2 separate regions of the Homo sapiens genome follow, and region 1 is linked to region 2. Evidence: fine-mapped expression QTL. A gene starts in region 2. The other region holds a variant in brackets. All regions are shown on one strand. Distances are between the middles of the regions.

Region 1 (2,764 bases), 31 kb after region 2:
CAGACCTTGGAACCTTTGGAACCTGCTGTCAACAGGTCTTACAGGGCTGCTTGAACCCTCATAGGCCTAGGCTTTGGTCTAAAAGGAACATTTAAAAAGTTGCCCTGTAAAGTTATTTGGTGTCATTGACCAATTGCATCCCAGCTAAAAAGCAAGAGGCATCGTTGCCTGGATAATAGAGGATGTGTTTCAGCCCTGAGATGTTACAGTTGAAGAGCTTGGTTTTCATTGAGCATTTCTCTATTTTTCCAGTTATCCCCGAAATTTCTATGTATTATATTTTTTGGGGAAGTGAGGTGTGCCCAGTTTTTTAATCTAACAACTACTTTTGGGGACTTGCCCACATCTCTGGGATTTGAATGGGGATTGTATCCCATTTTACTGTCTTTTAGGTTTACATTTACCACGTTTCTCTTCTCTGCTCCCCTTGCCCACTGGGGACTCCTCTTTGGCTCCTTGAAGTTTGCTGCTTAGAGTTGGAAGTGCAGCAGGCAGGTGATCATGCTGCAAGTTCTTTCTGGACCTCTGGCAAAGGGAGTGGTCAGTGAAGGCCATCGTTACCTTGGGATCTGCCAGGCTGGGGTGTTTTCGGTATCTGCTGTTCACAGCTCTCCACTGTAATCCGAATACTTTGCCAGTGCACTAATCTCTTTGGAGATAAAATTCATTAGTGTGTTACTAAATGTTAATTTTCTTTTGCGGAAAATACAGTACCGTGTCTGAATTAATTATTAATATTTAAAATACTTCATTCCTTAACTCTCCCTCATTTGCTTTGCCCACAGCCTATTCAGTTCCTTTGTTTGGCAGGATTCTGCAAAATGTGTCTCACCCACTACTGAGATTGTTCAGCCCCTGATGTATTTGTATTGATTTGTTTCTGGTGGTAGCTTGTCCTGAAATGTGTGTAGAAAGCAAGTATTTTATGATAAAAATGTTGTGTAGTGCATGCTCTGTGTGGAATTCAGAGGAAAACCCAGATTCAGTGATTAACAATGCCAAAAAATGCAAGTAACTAGCCATTGTTCAAATGACAGTGGTGCTATTTCTCTTTTGTGGCCTTTTAGACTTTTGTTGCCCTAAAATTCCATTTTATTGGGAACCCATTTTCCACCTGGTCTTTCTTGACAGGGTTTTTTTCTACTTTAAACAGTTTCTAAATAAAATTCTGTATTTCAAGAGTATCATGTCTTCTGAAATTTGTCTTGCCCTGGGTATATGCTGTTAGGTTCAAGTGATGGGAAACCAGTGCTTCTTTCTTCAGTGAGGACTGATCTTTTCACATCCTTTACTGATTTTTCAGATGTGCTTATTTCTTCTTCTTCTTCTTTTTTTTTTTTTTTTTTTTGAGATGGAGTCTTGGTCTGTCGCCCAGGCTGGAGTGCAGTGGCATGATCTCGGCTCACTGCAACCTCTGCCTCCCAGGTTCAAACAGTTCTCTGCCTCAGCCTCCCAAGTAGCTGGGATTATAGGCACCCACCACCACGCCCGGCTAATTTTTGTGTATTTTTAGTAGAGATGGGGTTTCACCATCTTGGCCAGGCTGATCTTGAACTCCTGACCTCGTGGTCCACCCACCTCAGCCTCCCAAAGTGCTGGGATTACAGGCGTAAGCCACCGTGCTCGGTCAGATGTGCTTATTTCTAAGCTGACTTCTTTTTTCTTCATTCACATTATATTG[T/C]ACAGCCTCCTGCTTTTTAAAATTCTCGTTGCTGTAAGAGGTTTTTCCTCTCGGAAGTCCAAGGCCTGGCCTATCTGCTGTGAAGCCTTTTCAGGGCATTTCCTTCTGAGAAATATAGCAGGACAGTGCTTGGCAGATGACTGTGGGGAGATTTTTTTTTTTTTTTTTTCTGAAGGTGTGATTCTTTCTTCCTTTCTTTTTTGAGACAGGGTCTCCCTCTGTTGCCCAGTCTGGAGTGCAGTGGCATGATCTTGGCTCACTGCAGCCTTGCCCTCTTGGGTTCAAGCGATCCTCCCACCTCAGCCTCGTGAGTAGTGGGGACTACAGGCATGCACCACCATGCCCAGCTAAACTTTGTATTTTTTGTAGAGATGGGGTCCCCTTATGTTGCCCAGGCTTGTCTTGAACTCCTGGGCTCAAGTGATCCTCCCACCTTGACCTCCTAAAGTGCTGGGATTACAGGTGTGAGCCACTGCACCCAGCCCTGAAAGTATGTTTCAAAGTCAGTTAACATGATCTTAATCTATAAAATAATCTAAAATTGTCACCATTTTTTTCTCCCTTATAAAATTATATGCTATTAGAAATGAGTTCAAAAGGAGACTTGCTGCCATTTTCTGTCAGAAATAAAGTTAAATGGGCAGAGATAGTGTGTTGTAGGATATGTAGAGTCATGGTTATGGATGCTCTATAAACCCAACCTGATGATCTTGACAAGGGTTGCACCCATAGTTAATGGTATGATACCTCCCTTAAAGTGTTAAATACCTTCAGAAGGAATTTGACACCATATGTATTGGTCATCTACAAGAAGATACCTTCCAGGAGTGCAAGGAGTTTGTGAAGATACTGTTGGCTACTGTCAATTGAGAAGTTACCTTGGTAAAGAGAGAAGCCAAAACTGTGGGTATCTGACCAAGTGCATTGACCTGGCTCTTGAATTTGAAGCACATACAGTCTTTGCTGCTTGGTTTGCTTGGCAGGTTCTGTGTTTCATGAAGGATAGGTAAACAAATGGGTTCTCTGGCTCAATTTGGATCATTGTTCATGCTGATGATTCTCAAACTGATGGGCTTCAGAATC
Region 2 (2,764 bases):
GTTGAATACTTGAATAAATGATACCCAGACAAAAAAAGTCAGCTTGAAATCTGGATCTACCTCTGACACTGAGTGAGTCAATTGGCCTCTTTGTCCCTCAGTTTCTTTCTGCTGTAAAGTGGTGCAGTTCCTCTTTTTTTCTTTTTTAGACGAAGTCTGACTGCAACCTCTGCCTCCCAGGTTCAAGTGATTCTCCTGCCTCAGCCTCCCAAGTAGCTGGGATTACAGGCGCCCACCACCATGCCCGGCTAAGTTTTGCATTTTTAGTAGAGATGGGGTTTCGCCATGTTGGACAGGCTGGTTTCCAACTCCTGACCTCAGGTAATTCATCCGCCTTGGCCTCCCAAAGTGTTGGGATTACAGGTGTGAGCCACCACGCCCAGCCCAGTTCCTCCTTCAGCCAAGGCTCTCTTGAGAATGTAAGGGCCAGGTGTGGTGGCTCACGCCTGTAATCCCAGCACTTTGGGAGGCCGATGCGGGTGGATCTCTCGAGCCCAGGAGACCAGCCCAGCCTGGGCAACATGGCAAGACCCCATCTCTTAAAAAAAAAAAAAAAAAAAAGAGGGAGTGGGCAAGAGAGAATGTATGTACAGCCATTGGGAAACAACCCGGAACAGGACTCAGGAGGTCCTTGCTCCTGTGGACTTTACAGGAGACAGACAGTAAAGGCACAAGATGCCTTCTTATGGTACTAAGAAGAAAATATGCCGCATGATATTGCAGATGGGGGGGCGGGGGCGTCACAGAACGTGACTTTTTTTTTTTTTTTTTGAGACAGAGTCTTGCTCTGTCGCCCAGACTGGAGTGCAGTGGTGCAGTCTCGCCTCACTGCCACCTCCGTCTCCTGGGTTCAAGTGATTCTCCTGCCTCAGCTTCCCAAGTAGCTGGAATTACAGGCGCCCACCACCACGCCAGGCTAATTTTTGTATTTTTAGTAGAGATGGGGTTTCACTATGTTGGCCAGGCTGGTCTCAAACTCCTGACCTCAGGTGATCCTCCCACCTGGGCCTCCCAAAGTGCTGGGATTAAAGGCGTGAGCCACTGCACCCGGCCCAGAAAGTTGACTTCTAAGCGTTTCCCCAAAGTGTCTATTAGGTATCTTTATGATTCAATAACCCATTCTTACAGAAATTAATTGTAAGCCTGGGAGCGGTGGCTCACGCCTGTTATCCCAGCGCTTTGGGAGGCTAAGGCGGGAGGATCGCTTGAGGCCAAGAGTTCGAGACCACCCTGGGCAACACAGCGAGACCTCCATACATCTCTAAGCAAAAAAAAAAAAAAATTCATTGTAAAAGCAATTTTCTTTTTGGTTACTGCCATAGGGATTTTGTAACTGAGTCACACCGGGCCGAGGCGGGACCTCATTGGCTGCGACCGACCACGTGCCGCAGTCGCCCCGGCGGTCGGGGCCCCGCCCCTCGGCTACCGTTCTGTGGATCAGGGGCCGAGCTCCGCCCCCGGCGCGCGGCTGAGACCCTCTCTATAAAAGGAGCCGGCGGAGGATGGCGAGCCTTTACGTCGGCGCGTAACGAGGGGGTGCGTGTGAGGTCATCGCGCGGGCGGGCGGGCGGGGTCTGGCGGTTTGAACGAGACGAAGACGGAACCGGAGCCGGTTGCGGGCAGTGGACGCGGTTCTGCCGAGAGCCGGTGAGCCGGCTAGCGGGCCCGGGGGGTGCGGCTGGGGGGGCGGCCGCGTGGGCCAAGGCCGGGCGTGCGCGGGCAGGCCCTACGGGCAGCGCCAGGGCCGTTCCACACGGCGGTGCTGTTCGAGCCGGGTGGGGGAAGGGCGGGGCCGTCACCCGGCGCGCGCGGGCTGGGCCTGGGGGCGCGCGCTGCGCTCTGCTCAGGGGGCGGGGTCTCGGGCCGGAAGTGGGCTGCTGCTACGCGGGGTGGGGGTTTCTGGGCCGCCGCTGAGGTGTGGTCCCTGCGCTGCAGCGACTGGAGGTCCCAGGGTGGTTGGGCCCTGGGAGGGTGTGGGCGAGGTGGGCCGTCCTGGGAGCTCTGGGGACGCACATTGTGGGAGGCCGTGTTGCCTGAGGGCCGAGAGATCGGGTGGTGGAGTCAGACCTGGGTTGGGTTCCGTGCGGTGTGACCTTGGACAGGTGCTTTAACCGCTGTGGATCTCAGCTTCCTCATCTGTAAAACGGGGACAGTAATACTACCCACATTAAACTCTTAGCGCGATGTATGGCAGAAAGTAAGCCAGCTCTTGGACTCCCTCCTTTCTTCAGTGTGTGTTTATTGAATGCCCACTAGGTGTTGGGCACCGTGCTAAACCCTGGCTGTTTTCCCGGGAACAAAGATTTGCTCTCCAGGAATCCACATTATGATGAGCAGGAGGACAGTATAACGGGATGGTATCAACAGTGCTAGTTCAGTCCCTACTTCACAGTTGCCCTCGGATGCTGCAGGGCAGAGCTTGACCTCTGCCCCATTTTGGGGATGAGGATCCTGGGGCCCATTGAGGGAGGTTATGCTAGGCCGGGCATCCGCTTCTCCGATGGCATGTCTCTAACAGTAGTAATGATAATAGCAGCTCTTTGTTAGTTGGGCACTTGTTTTGTGTCAAGCACTGTTAAGTGCTCCATGTGGCTTTGTGTCTTTTAATACTAACACTGTCTTTAAGAGAGATTCTCTTCTTCCTTTTTTTTTTTTTTTTGAGACAGAGTTTTATTCTGTTGCCCAGGCGTGCAGTGGCACCATCGCTCACTGCAACCTCCGCCTCCCGGGTTCAAGCGATTCTCGTGCCTCAGCCTCCCGAGTA

Evidence for each region. PIP is the estimated chance that this variant, and not a neighbour inherited with it, causes the effect. A credible set is the group of variants that fine-mapping cannot tell apart.
Region 1: its variant is the best candidate, but not a certain one, in a credible set for the expression of MAPRE1 in whole blood (INTERVAL, PIP 0.52).

The regions. Positions count from the first base shown.
Region 1 is chr20:32,849,222-32,851,985 of GRCh38, forward strand. MAPRE1 (microtubule associated protein RP/EB family member 1) reads left to right here. Exons shown (of 7, transcript NM_012325.3): 7 at 1-1,184. Among named protein-coding and RNA genes, the nearest start is that of EFCAB8, 8.3 kb to the right of the region's middle. The variant T/C (reference allele first, on the strand shown) is at 1,682.
Region 2 is chr20:32,818,382-32,821,145 of GRCh38, forward strand. MAPRE1 (microtubule associated protein RP/EB family member 1) reads left to right here and starts at 1,573. Exons shown (of 7, transcript NM_012325.3): 1 at 1,573-1,647. RefSeq lists a silencer at 1,290-1,879 and enhancers at 1,952-2,621, 2,622-2,764.